Linked DNA regions of Homo sapiens. The protein of the gene in region 1 purifies or fractionates together with the protein of each later gene. This does not show direct contact. Each region holds a gene or a part of one and is shown on either strand. Other genes may lie near its edges.

Region 1 (3,328 bases):
GTTTTTACATTCTTCCAAATTTGGGGTCACTCCCCTAGCTCCTGATGCTGCTACTGTACCATCCTTTTGCTCCAGCCATGAGAGCAGACATTGCAGAATGTTGGTTCCAGGTTGGCATGCTCTGAAGCTCTTGAACTGTAGCACAGGCAGAGCCCTTTTTCTTCCTGTCATCTCCACCCGATTCCTTCCATCCCTACGTCTACCACTCTCTGGGTCCTCACTGGTCTTCAAAGGACCTGGCTCTCATAGGATCCCCTCAGGATTGTGTGCAGGGAGAGGGGGCTTTGCTGGGGAGGAGCTGGGAGTGGAGAGTTGGAGGGTGGGTGGGGTTCCCTCATCCAGTTTCCACAGCCCACCATGGCTGGAGCCAAATGCTAGAAGCGAGATTGAGAACAGTGGCCGTTTAGTGATGTGGTTTACCTAATACCACTGTCCAGCTGTGCAGCTCAGAAAGGATAAACCAGTCAGGGACAGGGGCCAGAACAGGTTTGGGAAGGTGGCAGCAAGCAGAGCATGGTGGGTAGGAGATGATCCCTAAAAAAACTGGAGACTGTGGTGGTCTGAGCTGGTCAGGAATCTGCAGAATCCCTTCCAGGAATCAGTGTGCCAGTGCCCACAGCAGGGTGAGCTAGGAGGGAGAAATCCCAGGAAAAAGGTCGTGAGAACCCAGAAAGCCACTCCATGAGGAGGCACGGTGACCACAGCTGCTAAAGGTTCTTAGGCTGCCTTCCTGGGCTAGGAAGAGCCCCCCAGGGAGAGCTTCCACAAAAGGGTATGTGTCAAACCTTTTGTCAGAATAAATAATAGCATTTCCCACCCACCCCCATGCCCTGGGCCACAGGGACTTGGTGGGATCAGCACACCCATGGATCAGCTTTTGCTGTCTTAGAGACAGCCATCCCCATGAAGGAATGGTAAGGACAGCCACTGCTCAGTGAAGAACAGCCATTTGGAAGAGCCACGCTGGAGCCCTGCAGCCATAGAACTATTCACACTGGAGTTTTAAAAGAAACAGCAATACCATAAGCTCTAGTAGGGAATCATAATCAGGAAAGGAATTCACAACATAAAATAGGTGTTCTGTGCTATTAATCATGTAACTTTGTATATGATGTATAGCAAAGATACTGGGAGGTTTTGTTTCATCCTTAAATCAGAAATGAATGCTAGTTTCATAGCTGGGCAGAACCCTCATCCCCACCCCAAAGTTTTCCTTTTCTTTCCCGTTCCCCCAACCCAAAGATCAGACTACTGTTAAGTTTCACCACACAATTGGAATTGCAAAGACGGGAGGCAAATGGAGTGATTTTCATCAATGGAATTGCACTGACAGTGAGTGTTTCTTATAGGATTACTAAATTTTTTAATATAAAATGATTTGTTTAAAAATCAGGAGTTGATATTAAGTACCAGGACATTAGTTCGGATGATTTCATTTTTATTTCTACAGTGTTAAAAGTGCACTTATATGCTGGTTTATTTACGTCTTGGGAAAAGAGACTGCAAATTGAAGGGATGATTGTTACTTTTTCTTTTTTTAAAAAAAAAAGGTTAAGGAGATTTTAAGACTTATAAATGTTTAAGAAATTATAAACAAGGTTAGACCCTTTGAAAAAAAGTTTAGAAGATATTCTTAAAGTAAATTTTTATAGTGTTAATTTTGTAATAATTTATGTTTTACTATATTACAGAGCTAACTGACCAGAATAGTTTCAGAAACAATATGAAACTTAGGAAAGTTTAAGCAATGTTTATATTTTTAAAATGTTCTTTGAATTATGTTTTTATTGTACATTTCTTCAGACTGAAAAGTATGTACATATCTTTGTTATTTTTGCACAATTTTGTCTTGTTCGGTTTCAGAGGTCTGTTGTTTTTTATAATTTATTTTGAGTTGTAAAACTTGCAGGAGTAAAAACAAAAAACAAAATCTCCACAACAAAATAACCCTCTGATTTATAAACTCTTATAGTCAAAGAGGGAAAACAAAGGTTGAGAGATTAAGTGGCTGCTTCTGAGAAATAATGTCTCAAGGACTAAAGGAGCAATTCAATAGGTTTAGACATTGTAGCTCTCTACATCTTGAATTGGAAGCTGGAATAAAGAGCCCCCACCCCCCCCCCCACCCTCATCGAATGCTGCTTACTTTGTCAAAAGACTGGCTATGACCAAGGTGAGGATATTTCTGGAAAACTGGGCAAAAAGGGAAAGCCCACAGTATTCTTCCTTGGCAGTCAACCACAGGTTTACTTTACAATGATGTATTAAAAACTTGCAGCTTGAAAAATGGAATGCAAATAAAAGGTTCTCTTTGGGTTTGTCTTAATGGAGTTAAACTGGAGCAGCCTATAAAACATTTTTAGGGTGATGTCCTCTGGGTCCTTCTGTTCTGCACACCCACTCAGTCTTCTCTCCCAGCCCCTTGACTGCACACACCCCTCTTTGCCTGAAGATCTCCTGACTTGTCGCCAGCCATAGAGGCTCGAAAGCTCTGGTTGTGAAGCATAACGCAATGCATAGACCTGTCAGCCATAAAAAAAAAAAAAAAAAAAAAAAAGCGACTTGGATAACTTGTATGCCTTCTTTTGTATCAATGTACCAATTGTAAATAATGCTGATCAACCTTTGTAGAGAATAGTTTATACAGCATATTCTATTATTGCTGATTCTCAGTGAACTCTTGTTTTAAAAAAGGAAAAAAAGAAATTTTCTATTTACACCTTATATTTTGTTATGCTGTCGGCCCATGGCACTTTAACAAAACTCTGTGGGTTTTACGTAGCTGGTCAGTCATGGGGTATATTAAATAACTGTTGTTGCACAGACAAGAATTTGCACCTGCTCATTTGTCCTTTCCTACTACCAATTTTAGAACCTTTTCCAGAAAAATTTTGAAGAAAGCATGTCCGATCATTCTAAACAAATGCCACACTTGTGGAGTGGGTTTCTTTTCTACAATCCATATTTTGTAACACTAAGTATTTTCCTTCTTCGTCCCGCACCTCTATGTATTAGCACTATCAGATAGAGTTCATTCCATGCCTGTGATATTGTAAGCAGAATAAATGTCTAAAGTAGGTGTAAATAGTAAATTCTATGGCTTACAGTTTTAAAAGGAAAGAACAAACATGTATCTATTGATACTGCCATGGTTCCTCACCAGGCCTGGAAATATTCTCCAGTAAGCAATTGTATTTTTTTTTTTTTTTTGCTTTTTTTTTTTTTGTAACATGGCTTTGTAAATAAAATAATTTATATGTTTGTAAAACAAAGTCTTCGGGTTTTCATAAAATTTAAATTTTTGGTATTTCTTTTTTTTTTTTTTTTT
Region 2 (3,500 bases), on another chromosome or scaffold:
TTCCTTCCAGACTGACCAGGAAAAAAAGCAGCCTGGAATCTGCCAACTCACCTTCTCTGTTCCTATAACCAGGTGTCTGGCTGCTCCTGGGAGAGTGGGTGAGTTATACAGATCCACATTCTGCAGCCTCAGGATCCCTTCTTCCATCTGTCCCTTTTAGTCCAGTCTCAGAGAAAAGGCGCCTGCTCTCCTGGTCACAGCTAGCCACACCCCTGTGGTCGGAAGTCATCCCGTCCAGCCTCTTCTGAGACCTTTGGCATGCATCTGCTCCCTTTCCTCTATCTTCAGCCTTTCTCTCAGGGGACTTCTTCTATTTGGTCTATAAACAGGTCCGAGGCTTTAACACCACTGAGCTGTATACTTAAAAATGGTTAAAATGGCATATTTTATGTTATGTGTATTTTAATGCAATTTTTTTTTTTTTTTTTTTTTTTTTTTGAGACAGAGTCTCGCTCTGTCGCCCCGGCTGGAGGCAGTGGCTCTATCTTGGCTCACTGCAAGCTCCGCCTCCCAGGTTTACATCATTCTCCTGCCTCAGCCTCCCGAGTAGCTGGGACTATAGTCACCCACCACCACACCCAGCTAATTTTTTTTTTTTCTATTCTTTAGTAGAGACGGGGTTTCACCGTGTTAGCCAGGATGGTCTCAATCTCCTGACCTCGTGATCCACCTGCCTCGGCCTCCCAAAGTGCTGGGATTACAGGCATGAGCCACCACGCCCAGCCAACACAATTTTTTAAAAGTGGAATGCTAATTAATAAAAACAAAAAAACAGGTCCAGGACTTTTGCATCTAGGGAGAGCATTTTTTGCTTTAATTCATATCATCCCTTTACTTCTCATTCAAACTTTCCCATTATTCTGTGGCCACTGTCTTTAGTTCCTCAGCAGTTCATTTAGTCTTCAGTCCATTCAGTATGAGTTCTCTTCTGACTATATTTATAAACTTTTTTTTTTTTTTGGCACAATCACTGTTTCAGGTAACCTGAGTAAAACAAAGGAACACAGGTAAGAGGAAAGAGTTTATCCCAGTTCCTCCCTGTTGAACTGAGCCCCCCAAAAGATAGGATATGCAGCAAGATAGAGATGGTGGTTGCACAACATTTGTGAATGTACAAAATACCACTGAATAGTTCACTTTAAAATGATTAATTTGGCCGGGTGTGGTGGCTCACGCCTGTAATCCCAGCAATTTTGGAGGCTGAGGCGGGCGGATCACCTGAGGTCGGGAGTTCAAGACCAGCCTGACCAACATGGAGAAACCCCGTCTCTCCTAAAAATACAAAATTAGCTGGGCATGGTGGCACATGCCTGTAATCCCAGCTACTCGGGAGGCTAAGGCAGGAGAATCGCTTGAACCCGGGAAGCAGAGGTTGCGGTGAGCCGAGATTGCACCATTGTACTCCAGCCTGGGCAACAAGAGCGAAACTCCGTCTCAAAAAAAAAAAAAAAAGGTTAATTTTATAGTGTGTGAATTTCACCTCAATGAAAAAAAAGGGTAAGATACTTCTTCACTACATGTAATTGGGGTGCCAACACCTGTCCTCTGAGCTTCTGAGCTCATCCTAAAGCAAAGCACTCTCCTTTGGGAAGCATAAGGATTACTTATCCTACAGACTTCATTTCAAAGTGCTTGTTTAGGGGACAATGAAAATGGGCAAATCAGGGCTTCCTCAAGGATAGAAACTGACTTGCTCATCTCCAGGCCCTTGACAGTCCCAGCACACAGCAAACATTTTATTTTCTTTACAAAAGAGCTAGAGGGCCATGTGAATAAAATAAGTTCCGTTGTGAGATTCTTTATTTCACTAATTATCCTTTGATAGCTTGGGACTTTGTGTGCCTGTGACTTGATAGATCTGATGTAGTCTGAGTCGGTAATTTCAATGTGATCTTGTATATTACCTTGTAATAGCATTGAGCCAGCTGGTGGAGCACTGCAGCAATACACTGAGAGAAGCCACTATTTGCTAGGACACTAGACCATGGGCAGCAACTTATTTTAGAGTTTGGATATAAACTTATTAACAAACCAAATGGAAAGGTGAAGTGTTTTCTTCACTCTAAAATGCTATCCTAGAAAGCCATTTTTCTTTTAATTTCTGGCCTTTAAACTTCTTTAAATAGGCTCATTTATCTACTATGACTGTGTTGGGAAGTTGTCAATTAAGAAGACACTATCTTTGAGTTATAGAAGATTAATCCATTTGGAACTAGTCATACTGGTTTGAGTAAAGCTTTCTGACTTTTCTGTTATTGTTGTTAGAAATTATTCCTGCTTTTCCTTTCCTTTTAGCTTTCCAAGGAATCCCTTCAATCTGTGGATGTCCTCCGAGAGGAAGTGAGTGAGATCTTAGATGAAATGAGTCACAAACTGCGTCTTGGAGCCATTCGGTTTTGTGCCTTCACCCTGAGCAAAGTATTTAAACAAATTTTCTCGAAGGTGTGTGTAAATGAAGAAGGTATTCAGAAAGTGAGTATTGATTATTAAAAAAATAAAGAAATAAAAGTCTCATCTTAAAATTAAACAAAAAAAAAAACAGTCTCTTTTTCAACCCCTCACAATTTAATCAACTCAAGGACAGCTCACTTGGTCAATCAAAAGCCTAGGGCCTAATCATCAGGCCTCCAGTCTAGGCAGAAGAGGATGTGCATCTCTGAAGGTTGTTTTCTGTTTTTTTGTTTCCTTTTAACTGCAGACCTACAGGCTTCAGACTAACTTAGTCAAGTAAGACTTATAGACTAACTTAATGCCAGATATTCAGTAACGTTACAAAAGAAATACAAAGAATTCCTGTATATACTTCACCTAGATTCCCTTACAGCATTTCCTTTATCCTTTTCCTAATACTCTGCTGTGTTTTTCCTATAATTAAGGGCATTATCTTATGGTACAAGTATCAAAATAAGGAAATTAACATTGAACAAATACTAGTAATACTGACCTGACTCATATTTCACCAGTTGTCCCAGTCATGTCCTGTCTAGCTAAAGAAAATCGTAGCTCATGTGTTGCGCTAGAAATCCTAGAAAGTGTTCAACTTTCTTCTGTATCCACTTCCATATTAGACTCTTTTAATCTAAAATAATTCCTTAGTATCTGTATTTGTGTTTCATGCTAATTTTTTTTTTTTTTAAAGAACAGGCTAATTATTTTGAAGTGTGAAATGGTTTGAATTTGAGTGATGTTATCTCAGTATTGGGCTCGGGTTGTGTACCTTTGCTAGGAACACCCCGGAAGCGATGCATTCTTCTCAGTGGGTCGTGTCAGCAATGCATGGTGCCTGTCGGTTTCATTACTGGAGATGTTTCACTTCCATCAGTTGGTTATCGTTATGACTGCCAGGTTTCTCTGCTGTAAAGTTATTATTTTTTCCCTTTATAATTAATGAATATCTTGTGAAAAGACTCTTTGAAAATGGCTAAATACCCTGTTTTGCATCATACTTTACCCCACTCGTTTTTGCACCCACTGATGATTTTTGCCTGAATTAATTATTA
Region 3 (2,618 bases), on another chromosome or scaffold:
GCACTTAATAAAATGTGAAATCGTGTCTATCGTGGTATAAATAAATGAGTAAAAGTTTATTGAGAAATGGAATTGTTTACAAGCACCTCTCCATAAAATTTTTGTTAATTACAAAAGCAAAAAGTAACTTTACAGTGGAGAATCCTGGCATATGTGACCTAAATCAAGCAATCAAAGTGAACATAATGAAATAAATAAAAATCATGTTCTTCCTGATAGGATACAATGAGAAAAACACAGCATTATGTCTGTGATATTCCTGCTAAAGATGCATAACCTGAATCTAATCATCCTGAAACAGACAAACTCAAACTGAGGGACATACCACACAGTAACTAGCCTTGACATCTTTAAAGGTGCCAAGATCATGAAAGTCAAAGACTGAGGAAGTATTCCAGAATGAAGGAGACCAAAGGGAAATGAAAAATAAAGGCAATGTATGATTCTGAATTACATCCTTTTGCTATAAAGGATATTATTAAGACAAATTGGTGAAATGTCAGTGGGGTCTGAGGATTAATTGTTAGTAATGTATCAGTGTTAATTTCCTGGTTTTGATGGTTATAGTCATGTCGGAGAATGTTCTTGATTGTTGATTGTAAGAAGTGCACAGTCGAGTATTTGAGGATGATGGGGTATTAGGTTGGCAGTTTGCTGTCAAATGATTCAGGTAAAAATTTTTTTACTCTCAACTTTTCTGTAAATTTAGATTGTTTCACACTTTTAAAAATATGGTATATCTTGGTTACCCTCTGTATGCCAAACACTGGGCAGGTACTAAAAATAGAAAAGTAGAGTAACATGAGTCCTTACATCATTCTTGATGATACCTGAGTCTAATGGAGGGTACAGATATGTAAGTGAATAATTACAGTGCAGTCTGATCTGGGTTATACTATGAATATATACAAAGTACTATAGGAAATAAATTATGACAAATGAACTAGGTTTATTTTTTTGACAAGTTTTTTGGAATGACATTTAGGTAGGGTAATGTAGAAGAAAATAAGGGCATGAATCGGAAAAATGATAGATTAATTGTCAAGTTTTAGAGTAGTGAAAAAATCATCCCTTTAAAAAGAGATGCAGCATAGTATAACATAAAGAAACCATATTTAAGTCAGAAGAACTGTTTAGGACTTGGTTTTACCATGCGTTAGCGCTGGTGATCTTGAGAAGTCTAGCTAATTTATTTGAATTTTAGTTTTGACTTTTTAATAAAGTTCCTGGCTCTCAAAGCTCATAGATTATTGTTAATATTTGTACTGATTCCTTATACCTAATTGTAGTGACTTATACCTAATTGTAGTGACTGTTTAACCTGTATAATTAATTTAAGATGAATTGGTAGAGAGCTTGTAGTGACAGTTGAATAAATGTAAACCTCTGCTTATAATGCTGTTTGTAGTAGAACATATTGTAATTGTTCATTGCTGAATGTAATGCTCCATTTACTTCATTGCTTTACTGTTGTAGTCTTTATCATTTTGTTTTTCTGTTTATAGATCTGTTGGGAGAACGTTTTGCACAATGGATGGTCGTGGAAGCCCAGTTCACATTCATCCTTCCTCAGCAGTAAGTACTTCATTTTTAATAAAGGGAAGAAATTTGTAAAGTTGTAGAAATAAGTAATATACAAATGTCTTCTACTTTTCACTTTGGAGTTAAATTTACATATATCTATATTACATAGATCTATAAGGGTATTGGTTGGCCTGTGCCTCCTGTTTGAAGAAGATAGGAATTAATTGAGAAGGATTTGGACTATTTGGTTGGTTTAATGTGGAATAGGGCAGGTTATTGAGTTACCATCATTAAAAGAAATGTTTTGTATAGCTTCATGAACAGGAAACCAAACTTGAATGGATCATTTTTCATGAGGTATTGGTTACCACCAAAGTCTACGCAAGAATTGTATGCCCAATCCGTTATGAATGGGTAAGAGACTTGTTACCCAAGTTGCATGAATTTAATGCACATGATTTGAGCAGTGTGGCCCGACGTGAAGTGAGAGAAGATGCAAGAAGGAGATGGACAAATAAGGAAAATGTAAAGCAGCTAAAGGGTGAGTAAATCATTTGTTCTACTCTTAACCACTATGCCATACTGCTTCCCAGTAGTACTTCACTATTTTTGTTTATAAAAATGTTGTGACCCACCTGGGCAATGTGGTGAGATCCCATCTCTAGCAAAATAAAAATAAAAATTAGCCAGGCATGTTGGTGTGCACCTGTAGTCCCAGTGACTTGGGAGGCTGATGCAGGAGGATCGCTTGAACCCAGGAGTTTGAGGCTGCAGTGAACTGTGATTTCACCAGTGCACTCCAGCCTGGGGGTGACAGAGTGAGACACTATCTCTAAAAAAAAAAAAGTGATGATTTATGCATTATTAACTCAGAATCCCCTTTGTTTCCAAGGGGCTTTTTCTTTCTTTCTTTCTTTTTCTTTCTTCTTTGAGACGGAGTTTTGCTCTTATTGCCCAGGCTGGAGTGTAATGGTGTGATTTTGGCTCACTGCAGCCTCTGCCTCCCGGTTCAAGCTATTCTCCTGCCTCAGCCTCCTGAGTAGCTGGATTACAGGCATGCACCACCACGCCTGGCTAAGTTTGTATATCCAAGG
Region 4 (3,500 bases), about 50 Mb from region 1:
AAATAATTGTTTTAAATGTAAAATAAATAATAGGTAATTCCTAAAGCAACAGGGTTAGTGTTTCAGGAAGAAGTACTTTAGACTTCCACTGGGAAAAAATTAATTTTTCTTATTGGTTAGACTTTTGCAGCTCCAGAGATCGGTTGTCTGCCAAGAATCAGACCTTCCTGATGAGCTGCTTTATGGACGGGCAGGTTATCTGTATGCCTTACTGTACCTGAACACAGAGATAGGTCCAGGCACCGTGTGTGAGTCAGCTATTAAAGAGGTACTATGGGGTATGGGTAACTATGGGCGTCTCTACCATTCAAACCTATTTGCTAGCATTGAGTTGTATTAACAGCTGGACTTTACTTCTAGGTAGCATTACTTTTTTAAAGCAACTCATCAAAAGTAAGAAATAGTCCCTGCTTTTTTCTAGGAACATTAACAAAAAAAATCTGTACTCTCTTTCATCTTGTATTAATTTATCAGTTTTTACTGGAGCTAAACAGCAGCAGCTTCAGAAAGTTAGAATGTTTATTTATCTTTCGTGAGATGTCTCAGCTGGTAAGCATTTCAGGCTGGTATGAGTGGGGACCAGCTTCTTCTGTCTCATTCTGCCTTATCCTAGGGGCATACCCTTATTTGCAGGACCAAGGCTAGTTTAGCCCCTCAGCCTATGAAGGGAAAAGAGGAGGTGGAGGCAACGCAGCTTCCTTGTTAGGGACTCAGTCTCCAAGTTGCCCTCTTTACTTCTGCTCCCATCCCAGTGCCAGAACTTCATCAAGTGTCTGTGTTCAGCTGTCTCTAACTAGGGAGCCAGATGCCCAGCTAAAACTTGGAATACTTTCCCAAAAAGGATGAGAGGAGATAGACGTGAGGAAACAGTCATCCCAGACATGATATTCTGTTGATCTAACTGAAATCCTTCATGCCACAGCAGACCTCATATCATTAGCCTTTTATAAATAAAGCCAGTTCCTCCAGCCTTTCCTGATAGGTGTATGTGCTGCTCTTTTGGGAAAAATACTGCAGCTACGAAGCAACTAAGAAATCCAAAACAGTTTTATAAGAAGTTTTTCTAGATTTTTCGTTGACTTTTTATGCAAAGAATTTTTTATTTCTTAGACAGTATCTTTTCCTACTCTGACATTGGCTCCTGATTTCTTTTTGCCTGCATTTATTAATTTATAAAATAAATATAACTATATTAGCTGCTAACTGCTTAAAGACTTTTAGATTAAGGCTTCTGCCTCTCTCTCTATATATGTCATATATATATGACATACTGTTAATTAGACTACAACAGGGTACATATACAGTTTTAGATTTATGCTGTCTTGTTATCTCTGTAGGTAGTCAATGCTATTATTGAATCGGGTAAGACTTTGTCAAGGGAAGAAAGAAAAACGGAGCGCTGCCCGCTGTTGTACCAGTGGCACCGGAAGCAGTACGTTGGAGCAGCCCATGGCATGGCTGGAATTTACTATATGTTAATGCAGGTAGGTAAGAATACTCTTACACACTACAGTATATTTGATCAAACATGAAATGGGAAATGAATCCTGCATATAAACAAAGCAGTCTGGATTGAAATACCCTACTTTGAATCGCTGATGCGTAACTCTGCCACATAAACCACAGGCAGTGGATTTCTAAGAGTCCAGTGAGTTCCTGAGTACATTTGGTATGGAGTCTTTTTTTTTTTTTTTTTTTTTTTTTTCCAATTTTCTTTTTTTTTTTTTTTTGATCATTCTTGGGTGTTTCTCGCAGAGGGGGATTTGGCAGGGTCACAGGACAGTAGTGGAGGGAAGGTCAGCAGATAAGTGAACAAAGGTCTCTGGTTTTCCTAGGCAGAGGACCCTGCGGCCCTCTGCAGTGTTTGTGTCCCTGGGTACTTGAGATTAGGGAGTGGTGATGACTCTTAACGAGCATGCTGCCTTCAAGCATCTTGTTTAACAAAGCACATCTTGCACCACCCTTAATCCATTTAACCCTGAGTGGACACAGCACATGTTTCAGAGAGCACAGGGTTGGGGGTAAGGTCACAGATCAACAGGATCCCAAGGCAGAAGAATTTTTCTTAGTACAGAACAAAATGAAAAGTCTCCCATGTCTACCTCTTTCTACACAGACATGGCAACCATCCGATTTCTCAATCTTTTCCCCACCTTTCCCCCCTTTCTATTCCACAAAACCGCCATTGTCATCATGGCCCGTTCTCAATGAGCTGTTGAGTACACCTCCCAGACGGGGTGGTGGCCGGGCAGAGGGGCTCCTCACTTCCCAGTAGGGGCGGCCGGGCAGAGGCGCCCCTCACCTCCCGGACGGGGCGGCTGGCCGGGCAGAGGGGCTCCTCACTTCCCAGTAGGGGCGGCCAGGCAGAGGCGCCCCTCACCTCCCGGACGGGGCGGCTGGCCGGGCGGGGGGCTGACCCCCCCGCCTCCCTCCCGGACGGGGCGGCTGGCCGGGCGGGGGGCTGACCTCCCCGCCTCCCTCCCCGGACGGGGCGGCTGGCCGGGCAGAGGGGCTCCTTACTTCCCAGTAGGGGCGGCCAGGCAGAGGCGCCCCTCACCTCCCGGACGGGGCGGCTGGCCGGGCGGGGGGCTGACCCCACCACCTCCCTCCCGGACGGGGCGGCTGGCCGGGCAGAGGGGCTCCTCTCCTCCCAGTAGGGGCGGCCGGGCAGAGGCGCCCCCCACCTCCCGGATGGGGCGGCTTGCCGGGCGGGGGGCTGACCCCCCCACATCCTTCCCGGACGGGGCGGCTGGCCAGGCGGGGGATGACCCCCCCACCTCCCTCCCGGATGGGGCGGCTGGCTGGGCGGGGGGCTAACCCCCCCACCTCCCTTCCGGACGGGGCGGCTGGCCGGGCGGGGGGCTGACCCCCACCTCCCTCCCAGACGGGGTGGCTGCCGGGCGGAGACGCTCCTCACTTCTCAGACGGGGCGGTTGCCGGGCGGAGGGTCTCCTCACTTCTCAGACGGGGCGGCCGGGCAGAGACGCTCCTCACATCCCAGACGGGGCGGCAGGGCAGAGGCGCTCCCCACATCTCAGACGATGGGCGGCCTGGCAGAGACGCTCCTCACTTCCTAGATGGGATGGCGGCTGGGCAGAGATGCTCCTCACTTTCCAGACTGGGCAGCCAGGCAGAGAGGCTCCTCACATCCCAGACGATGGGCGGCCAGGCAGAGACGCTCCTCACTTCCCAGACGGGGTGGCGGCCGGGCAGAGGCTGCAATCTCGGCACTTTGGGGGGCCAAGGCAGGCAGCTGGGAGGTGGAGGTTGTAGCGAGCCGAGATCACGCCACTGCACTCCAGCCTGGGCACCATTGAACACTGAGTGAGTGAACGCGACTCCGTCTGCCATCCCGGCACCTCGGGAGGCCGAGGCTGGCGGATCACTCGCGGTTAGGAGCTGGAGACCAGCCTGGCCAACACAGCGAAACCCCGTCTCCACCAAAAAAATACGAAAACCAGTCAGGCATGGCGGCGCGCGCCTGCAATCGCAGGCACTCG
Region 5 (3,500 bases), on another chromosome or scaffold:
TTCACAATTGAGTCATCCATCTCCCCACCTGAATTATGAGATCTTAACACAATAAGGCTTAGTAGTGAAGAGTTAAATAACTTGTCCTATGTCACAGGGCTGGTGCATGGTAGAGCTGAACCCATTTTTTTCTGGGTTTATGAGTCAAAAAATGTGCATTTAAGTTGTTTAACCTCTCTGAAACTTAGTTGTCTTATGAAAGTGGGACAGTGATCTTTTTTGTGAGAAGTGATTTTTGTAAACAGTGGAAGTAGTCATTGCTATAACCATTATCATTATTATTTATGATGTACTAGCCCTAGGGACATAAGAATTGGTAGATGGTAATTTCTGCCATCTAAGGTCTCCCTCATAGGTAGGGAGACAGATGACTCAACTGTGAAATGCACCATAATTGTGCTGAATGCACAGTCACTGTGTAAGCACAGAGAAGGAAGTCCTTAGCTCTGCGTGGGAGGTTATGGAAGGCTGCTTGGAGAAAAGAACTTATTTTCTCATCAGTGTCTTGTTGTGGTCCTTTAAGTAAACTTCTCCTGCCTGAAGGCTTGTAGTTTTGTGAAAATCATGGACCTTGCTTGTACCCTTAAGTGTTTTAATCCTTGTCTTAGGTTTCAGATCTGGATCGTTGCCATTTATACCTGATGGTGTTAACTGAGCTTATAAATCTGCATTTGAAGGTTGGGTGGAAAAGGGGTAACCCTATCTGGAGAGTTATTTCTCTTTTGAAAAATGCATCCATTCAGCATCTTCAAGAGATGGACAGTGGACAGGTAAGCCTCTTTGATTCAAGGTTTGTAGTTATCTTGAATAAGGCATACAGGGAATACATATTCAGTTCTTATACACTATTTTGATACCATACAAAGCGTTAACTAAAATTCAGTTTTAAAATATACCCTCTAGTGATAAGATGTAGTTAAGATTGATACTTTTTGTTTTTTGGAGATGGAGTCTGGCTCTGTCACCCAGGCTGGGGTGCAGTGGTACCATCTTGGCTCACTGCAACCTCCACCTCCTGGGTTCAAGTGATTCTCCTGCCTCAGCCTCCTGAGTAGCTGGGATTACAGGTGTGTGCCACCATGGCTGGCTAATTTTTCTATTTTTTAGTGGAGACGGGTTTTACCATGTTAACCAGGCTAGTCTCGAACTCCTGACCTCGTGATCCGCCTGCCTTGGCCTCCCAAAGTGCTGGGATTACAGGTGATACTCTTAATATAATATTAAACATATAAGAGGCATCATCTTAAAATCATTTAGATATAGACATTTCACCTGTACTAGGTCTTTTGCCCAAACGTGTCCAGTAAAGGACATTTTATAGTCTGACATCATTGCCCTCCATGCTTGGCTTCCTACCTCATTTTTCAGCCTAGCTGTCCACTGTCTAATGCCTTTCCCCCTCCTTCCCACAGTGCCGTGACGTTGCAGCCACTCTAGGCTACTTAGAGTTTTACAAATCACAAGCATGTGTCCTATCTTCCTCATGGAGGCTGTCATTCAGTCTGGTCCCTCCGTGGAGAATGAGTGCCCTCTCCTCCAGCATACACTTGGCAGCATCTGGTCTCCCCTTTTATGGACCAACTGGAATCTCTTTTCTCTTAGAGGTCTTCTTCGATTAGTATCTCACTCTCTTTCATCTTCCTGTTGCTCTTTATGCCTCACTTGTAGTGTGTATTTCCATCTTTCTTGTTTTTGGAGTAATGTATGCATATATATCTTTTCCTATATATATATATTTTTGAACAGAGTCTCGCTCTGTCACCCAGACCGAGTGCAGTGGCGTGATCTTGGCTCACTGCAGTCTCAGCCTCCTGGGTTCAAGCAGTTCTCCTATCTCAACCTCCCGAGTAGCTGGGACTACAGGCGTGTGCCACCATGCCCGGCTAATTTTTGTATTTTTAGTAGAGTTGGGGTTTTGCCATGTTGGCCAGGGTGGTCTCGAACTCTTGACTTCAAGCAATTTGCCTGCCTCAGCCTCCTGAAGTTCTGGGATTGTAGGTGTGAGCCACCGTGCCTGGCCTCAAGGCTTTTTTTTTTTTTTTTTGGAGACGGAGTTTCGCTCTTTTGCCAAGTCTGGAATGCAGTTGTGCAGTTGGCTCACTGCAACCTTGGCCCCCCAGGTTCAAGCGATTCTCCTGCCTCAGCCTCCTGAGTAGCTGGGATTGTAGGTGCCCGCCACCATGCCTGGCTAATTTTTGTGTGTTTAGTAGAGATGGAGTTTCACCATGTTGGCCAGGCTGGTTTCGAACTCCTGACCTAGGTGATCCACCCACCTCGGCCTCCCAAAGTGCTGGGATTACAGGCGTGAGCCACCACGCCTGGCCAAGGCATTTCTTAAACATGGCACAATAAGGCTTAGTAATGAAGAGCACAGGCTTTGGAGTTAGAGTTGCTGGGTTTGAATTCTGGCTTTATTTTTGCTGTGTGACCTACATTATTTAACCCCTCTGTGTCTCATTTACTGCACCTGCAAAATGGGGATTATAGAGTTGATGTGGGAATTAAAGAAAGCTCATTCATGTTAAGTCTTTAGAACTGTACCTGGCAGATAGACAGTCCTCAATAAAAGTTAGCCATTTTCACTTAACATGTGGTAAGTGTTTAATAAGTTGAACTCAATCAGTGTAACTAATCCAGGCTACTAAGAAAAACAAAGAAGATACTCGATTGCTTTAATAATTTAATTCTAGGAGGAAATGATAAAGACGATGATTAATATTTCAGCATCCTGTCTAGTACCTATTAGTCTGTTAGTGTTATGAAAGAACATTGTGAGTTCTAAATATACAACCAAACCATGAACCATGCCACAGTAACTCTTATTCTTAAAAATCGGCTTCCTTTAGTAATTCACTGAATTACATTAAGGTTAGCAGGGACGATAGTTGGCTCAAAGGTAACACTAAATTCTATTTCATATGTTGGCAGTGTTGATATGTAAAATTTTTCTGTAGAGATGGTTGATTTATTTTTGGAGAGTGAAAGAGGGGTATGGAATAAGTAGAAATTTCCTTTCTGATACAGACATTACTGGTTGGCAGTATTTGAGGGAACTGCTGTAATCTCTCAGTGCTGTTGTTTTCTGTGTCTGACTTCTTGCCTGCACTCCTAGCTTGGTGAGAGATTGTCGATTTTCTCTTTAAGTATAGACCAGGTTGTCTTGGCTACCCTCCTTTCCTACGTGTAGAGTTCCAAGTGTTTTACATGCAGTAACCCATTTGCTTAATCTTCACAATAACCCCGTGAAGTAGATTCTGTTACTGTCCCCATTTTACAGATGAGAAAACTAAGGTGTAGTATGTCTACACTCATACTGGTAGTAGCACAGAGCTAGGATTCAGACCTGGGCTTTGTGGTTCCTGAGTCCAGCTCTTAACTGCTGGACTACGTGACTTCTCCAAAAGTAGCGTGCAGCTGATAGAAGGAATTATTTGTAACCTGGAGCCTTTTATTTTTTTTTTTAACATGTTTCAGCAGACAGTTAAAATAAGGCTCACCCA
Region 6 (2,540 bases), on another chromosome or scaffold:
AGGGTTTTTTGTTTATTTGTATGTTTTTATATGAAAGTACATAAATGACAGACTACCTCCAAGTAATCCTGCTTTAATTAATAGCAGTGATTTGTAATCAGTGTATCTTTTAAGATTCTCTACAGGTTTTAGAAAATATTAAAAATTCCCTGTAATTTACATTTGTGCATAATCTTGGAAATGGGTTGAAAAGCAAAGGTAAACTGCTTCATCCCATGTTGTATATTTGTGGACTGATTGACTACAAGTGATGTGATGTTATAAATTTGAAGTCTTTGAAACTTTATTAATGTAGAGAAAACATAACTAGCTTTTTAGGTTATTTCAAAGTTAGTAATAGAGCAAAGGAAATCAGAACTGGCCAGATATTCAGACTTGACTTAGAAAAACAGGAGTTTGTTGATTTTGTTTGGAGAAGGGCACAATAAAGGGGAGCCCACATAGCATTATAATGCCTAGTATCTTTAAACATGTAAAGAGCTATCATGAGGCAGAAGAATTAAGAAACTTTATATGTTTCTAAGGGGTCATGATTGGGACCATTGGCTCAAGATTGAAAATCGGTTTTTAATTATCCAAAGATGAAATGGGGCTGCTTCAGAAAAAGGTCTACCACTGGAGATAACGCTATGAAAAGTGAAAGAGATTACTTAATCATTTTGACAAAGGCAGTATTGACCAGACATTTCTATTTCAGAGTTGGATTTGTGCTTAGTTTTTTTTAGGTGTTGGGACCCTTGTAGTTGCTTTTTATTTTGCTTAGTCAACAAACACTAAAATGATAAAATTTGGTATGTATAAGTACTGGACGAAGGATGTTTTGACACTAAAAAGGACATAATTTAGGAAATTAAGAATTTAGACACCAAGTTTGGCTTAATAGAAAAAGTCACTATCTGAACTTCTTTCTTTTTCACCACAAATCACCGCAGACCAGTGTTTGGGAGCAGGTGTAGGAAATTGAATTATTGGATCTATGTTTAGGTAAGAAAACTAAAGGTACTTCAGAATTTAGGCTATGACATAACTGTCTTTCTGAAGTTTAAAGAAAGAAAGTGAACTATAGAAATCTATTCAGCTAATTAAAGTGAATGAAAAATATTACAGATTCCATAACTGCATGGCGCCTTACCTGCTATTAATACTGCCGCCTTACTGTCAGCCAGATGATTTTTTCCCACCACGGCCAGTCTTAAATTTGGCAATAAGAAAAAGCTAATCTTCCAAGTGTAAGTAGGTATGTGTTAGAATCTTGGTGAAAGATAAACACAAGACAGTCTTCTTGGCGCAGGTCCTAACAGTTGGTGAGATAATACATAAGATGGTTTCAGGATTATTGTAGAATTATTTAGGTTGAAAGAGACTGTAAGAGACTAATGAAGCATACCCAGAGAGGTTGCTACAGTGACTCCAGTCAGTTTTAGGACCCAGGACTCCTGAACTTCAATTTCAGTATTATTTTTCTGTACCAAACTCATTCAATAAATACTTGAGATTAGGGATAAGTTTGAAGTTAGAAGATTCCAGAGTACACTCAAATAGTATTTGGCACATAGCTTGTTGATCAAAAGTATTTACTAAGTGAGTGACAAAAGGCACTAGCAACTTTAAGGATTTTGCCTATTAGTATCATATGGCATGTAGCTATCAAGCCAGTTTCGTTTAGTTATTTTGTGTTGCCAAGCATATGATACGTGGTGTCACACTGAGCCTTTGGGATCCTTTCCCTGGATACATAACCCTAGTAGATAATGTTACTGCAAGATGTAATGACCAAATCCAACCTACTGCAAATGTTACTATGGAAATCTCAATGCAAAAGTAGCCTTTGTGATTTTTTTTTTAAACCGTCTCCATAACAGAACACTTAGAATTATTAGCCATTTGCTGCAAAGTATTTGTTTTAAAATGTCTGGCATATACACCACTAACATTTAAATGCCCAACATTCGGTCTATACGTGAAAAAACTAGAAGAAAAGCCCTGTTGGAGTTTTGATGTAGAGTGCAATAATACATCAATAAAGGTATTTTAAAATGACCTAATGTTTTAGTTGCCAACATGATTTTTGTATTTGTAAAGAGGTATGTTGGGTTTTGGCATTTATATTTTACCGTATGAAAGACATATTCATGTAAAAGGTAATGTGAAGCTTAGCATCTCTTGTCAACCTGTCCCCTGTTTCCAAGTAGTCTCCTTGGATATTTGTAGCATCTGGATTCCTAATAATCCAGATAATTAGGATTATGGCATTTATGTACAGACATGGGTAATTCTCCAAAGCAGATCTTCCCACACTAATTTTTCAAGTACTTGTCACCTAAATCATTAATAAAATGTGCCAATTCCAAATAATAGCAAATGTAGGAATTGAATCAGCATCCCAGAGTACTAGTCCTGGGCCATATCCTCATTAGGCAAAGGAAATTTGAAGAAGTTATTTTAGGACTTTACCTAAGGTGAAGTCTAGAATTTTACATATGTAGGTATGTTTTTGTTAGTCTTATATTTGCCTAAAAGTTATACGTTTTATTATTTCA
Region 7 (3,064 bases), on another chromosome or scaffold:
AGCATTTCAGGTTACAGCTTCTAGAAGAGGTTTGTAGTCTCAAATGAGTAGGTTTTTCCTCTAGAGAGGGGCGGGCCTGGACCTTCAAGCACCCCTTGGTGTGTTTAGGAGCTCAGGAGCAGAAGCACCTGCCTGCAGCCCTGCAGCTAAGGAAGTTCTCTCAGTCACTCAGAGCAGGGAGGGGCTGAGAGAGTCATGTGAGGCTCCCGGGGTACTACGACAGCCCTCGAGGTGAAGGATTGGCCCTGATCATAATAGAGAACCCTGAGGAAGTTTACTGTCATGAGTCTCGGCTGGTTGGCGCATGTGACCTTTGAAGGATGAAGATGGAGTTTGCAACATGAGTATCTCTAACCTTTTGCTTTTCAGGGATCATTTTCAAAAATTGCATTGGGGCCTTCGTTATTTACCATAGTATTTTCACTTTCATAGTTTTGTCACCTTTTTGTACTGTGAACAGTTCAACCAGTGACCGACTTCTCTCTCATGCTGTTTACCCCACACACAATTTCCCACTCAATTCTGAAAATAAGAACCTGTTAATAGGTTGGAAAGCTGTGTACTCTATTCATATATTGTTCTTTCATGCTAGTGGAGAGTGGTGTCATTAGCATCTTAATTTTAGAGTTGTGAAATGATTTTACCAATTAGGAATTGAATGTGTATTTTTTTTCTGTTTAATAAGAAGAGCAAATTTGAATAAATAAGCTGGTGTAGATAAACTTAATAATCATGCTTTTTCTTGTTTGGAGATAGGTGATGTGTTGTCATATCCTGTGATACAGGTCACTCATCTGGCCTTCTGTTTCTGAAGTTTAAGTCTGGTTTGAATATGTAATAATACTACTCAGCATTTCTTGTTGCCTAAGTGAGACGAAACTTAAATGTTATGATATTTACTTCATGTATTCTTGTACTGTTCATTTCAATTAATTGGTATTGTATATCTAATATGTGATATTTGAACTGAATAAAACTTACAGTGTTGTAAATGTTCTTTAATAAATAATCACACCTAAGTAATAGGCTAGACTGATGAGAAATTAGATCAAATCAGTGCCTAGGCCTTTGTGTTTGTGTCGTAGGGATGTACTAACACATCACCACAGACTGACGGCTTTTCACAATAAATCAGTTTTCTTCGCTCACATTTCTGGACATTAGAAATCCAAAGCCAAGGTGCCAGTAGGGCCGGGCTTTCTCTGAAGGCCCCAGGAAAACTCCTCCTTCATCTCCTCCAGCTGGTGTGGCTGCTGGCCGACCTCGGCCTTCCTCGGCCAGCGGCTGCATCACTCCAGTTTCCGTGTCCATCGTCACATGGCCTTCTTCCCTCTGTGTGTCTGTGTCCAGATATCCCTTTCCTTATATAAGGACACCAGTCATTAGATTTAACTTCCACCCTAATCCAGGATGACCTCATCTTAACTTGATTACATCTGCAAAGACTGTATTTCCAAATAAGGTTATATCCACAGGTTCTAGTGGACATGAATTTTAGAGGAACAGTATTCAACACAGTGCAGATGTGGAACGATTCCAATTTAATTTTAGTAGGAAAAAAAAGGAAAGAGGGCTGCCAATGGCTTTGGCTTAAAACCATAATTACTTTTAAAAATCATTTCTATCCAAGGCAGATAAGATTTAATAAGAACTGAAGCTTGTATAGTTGTTTATTTGGGAGGAAGGGGGTAGTGCTTCTTAAGAAAAGGAATATGAATTGCAAATACTGAGTTAACTATGAAAGCATATATTTATTTGGAATTTTTAGAGGCATAAATTACAATATTTAAAACAGCATAACACTCTACAAAATACTGAAAAGTATTTTTATTAACTTCCTGGCACCTTTATGATACCTTTCCCATCTTTTTTTTTCTTTTTTTTAACCTACATACTCTGGTTAGTTTGTTTGTTTATTTATTTATTTATTTTCTTCTTGGGGGACATGGTCTTGCTGTGTCATCCAGGCTGGAGGGCAGTGGTACAAGCATAGCTCACTGCAGCCTCAACCTCTTGGGTTCAAAGGATTGTCCTGCCTCAACCTTCTGAGTAGCTGGGACCACAGGTGCATGCCGCTATACCCGGCTAATTTTTTTACTTTCTATGGAGACGAGGTCTAGCTGTGTTGCCCAAGCTGGTCTCAAATTCCTGGGCTCAAGCAGTTCTCCCACCTTGGCCTCCCAAAGTGTGAGATTGCAGGCATAAGCCACTGCACCTAACCCTGCATACTCTTTGATCATCTTTTTCTTCTTAGGACAATCTTGTGTTGGTTACTAAAGAGAGAATGATATTTAAGTTCTTCCTCTAACATGGATATGGGGCAAAAATCATAGACTAAAAGTTTCAGTTTTCACAAGTCATTATTGGTAATGTCATTTAAATAGGATGGTTGTCAAATCTGGGAAAACCTCTGATGAAGTCTTTTATATGTGAGTTGTAAGGATCAGGCATTTTCCCGCTTCCTCATGCAGTGACTAATCTTAACTCCTTCAGCACTGTTGGATGAAACTTTCTGTGATGACGGACATTGTTGGAAATAAAGCTCGGAGTCATAAGGAAAATGAGTACTTAGACATGCTCTGTATTTGTGCTGTACAGTATGGTAGCCACCAGCCACATGTCACTTTTGAGCACTGACGATGTGGTTAGTGTGGCTGAGAAACTAAATTTTTTATTTAATTTGATTTTAACATTTGGCTTTTCCTCCAGAAAGCTGCCCCCTCCCGGCCCCGTGGCCCACCTCTGTGTCCCCAGCTGGGCCTCCCTCCAGGCCCAGTGACTGTGTCCACTGACTGGGGCCTGAGCCAGTGGATTTGGTGAAAACTAACCAAGGTTTATTATAAACAAAACTGTCCACCTCACTCACCCACCTGAATATGCTTGGAATGACTATTGAATCAATATGTTTAAAAATGAACAGGCGTATGCTTCTGGACAGGTTCCTCTTTATGTTCTTGAGATCTTTTCCTTCCTTTCCACATGAAGTCAGGTGTTTCAGTCAGGATGGGCTACATGATGCTGTGGTAAGAAGCATCCCCCACATCTCAGTGCTCTCCGTGGCAAA

What was found.
Region 2: the proteins of ATXN7L1 (region 1) and GNPAT purify together in Homo sapiens (affinity purification with mass spectrometry; one large-scale study listed by BioGRID and IntAct). This does not show direct contact.
Region 3: the proteins of ATXN7L1 (region 1) and DHX40 purify together in Homo sapiens (affinity purification with mass spectrometry; one large-scale study listed by BioGRID and IntAct). This does not show direct contact.
Region 4: the proteins of ATXN7L1 (region 1) and LANCL2 purify together in Homo sapiens (affinity purification with mass spectrometry; one large-scale study listed by BioGRID and IntAct). This does not show direct contact.
Region 5: the proteins of ATXN7L1 (region 1) and TARBP1 purify together in Homo sapiens (affinity purification with mass spectrometry; one large-scale study listed by BioGRID and IntAct). This does not show direct contact.
Region 6: the proteins of ATXN7L1 (region 1) and ZBTB10 purify together in Homo sapiens (affinity purification with mass spectrometry; one large-scale study listed by BioGRID and IntAct). This does not show direct contact.
Region 7: the proteins of ATXN7L1 (region 1) and LONRF2 purify together in Homo sapiens (affinity purification with mass spectrometry; one large-scale study listed by BioGRID and IntAct). This does not show direct contact.

Annotation. Positions count from the first base shown.
Region 1 is NC_000007.14:105,604,272-105,607,599, reverse strand, and holds the end of ATXN7L1 (ataxin-7-like protein 1), read left to right. Parts: 3' UTR 1-2,828; downstream 2,829-3,328.
Region 2 is NC_000001.11:231,258,212-231,261,711, forward strand, and holds part of GNPAT (dihydroxyacetone phosphate acyltransferase), read left to right. Parts: intron 1-2,295; coding exon 2,296-2,472; intron 2,473-3,500. UniProt on the Homo sapiens protein: Dihydroxyacetonephosphate acyltransferase catalyzing the first step in the biosynthesis of plasmalogens, a subset of phospholipids that differ from other glycerolipids by having an alkyl chain attached through a vinyl ether linkage at the sn-1 position of the glycerol backbone, and which unique physical properties have an impact on various aspects of cell signaling and membrane biology.
Region 3 is NC_000017.11:59,603,610-59,606,227, forward strand, and holds part of DHX40 (probable ATP-dependent RNA helicase DHX40), read left to right. Parts: intron 1-1,505; coding exon 1,506-1,575; intron 1,576-1,836; coding exon 1,837-2,065; intron 2,066-2,618. UniProt on the Homo sapiens protein: Probable ATP-dependent RNA helicase.
Region 4 is NC_000007.14:55,399,837-55,403,336, forward strand, and holds part of LANCL2 (lanC-like protein 2), read left to right. Parts: intron 1-120; coding exon 121-268; intron 269-1,337; coding exon 1,338-1,484; intron 1,485-3,500. UniProt on the Homo sapiens protein: Necessary for abscisic acid (ABA) binding on the cell membrane and activation of the ABA signaling pathway in granulocytes.
Region 5 is NC_000001.11:234,430,680-234,434,179, reverse strand, and holds part of TARBP1 (tRNA (guanosine(18)-2'-O)-methyltransferase TARBP1), read left to right. Parts: intron 1-608; coding exon 609-770; intron 771-3,500.
Region 6 is NC_000008.11:80,524,226-80,526,765, forward strand, and holds the end of ZBTB10 (zinc finger and BTB domain-containing protein 10), read left to right. Parts: 3' UTR 1-2,040; downstream 2,041-2,540. UniProt on the Homo sapiens protein: May be involved in transcriptional regulation.
Region 7 is NC_000002.12:100,271,375-100,274,438, reverse strand, and holds the end of LONRF2 (LON peptidase N-terminal domain and RING finger protein 2), read left to right. Parts: 3' UTR 1-2,564; downstream 2,565-3,064.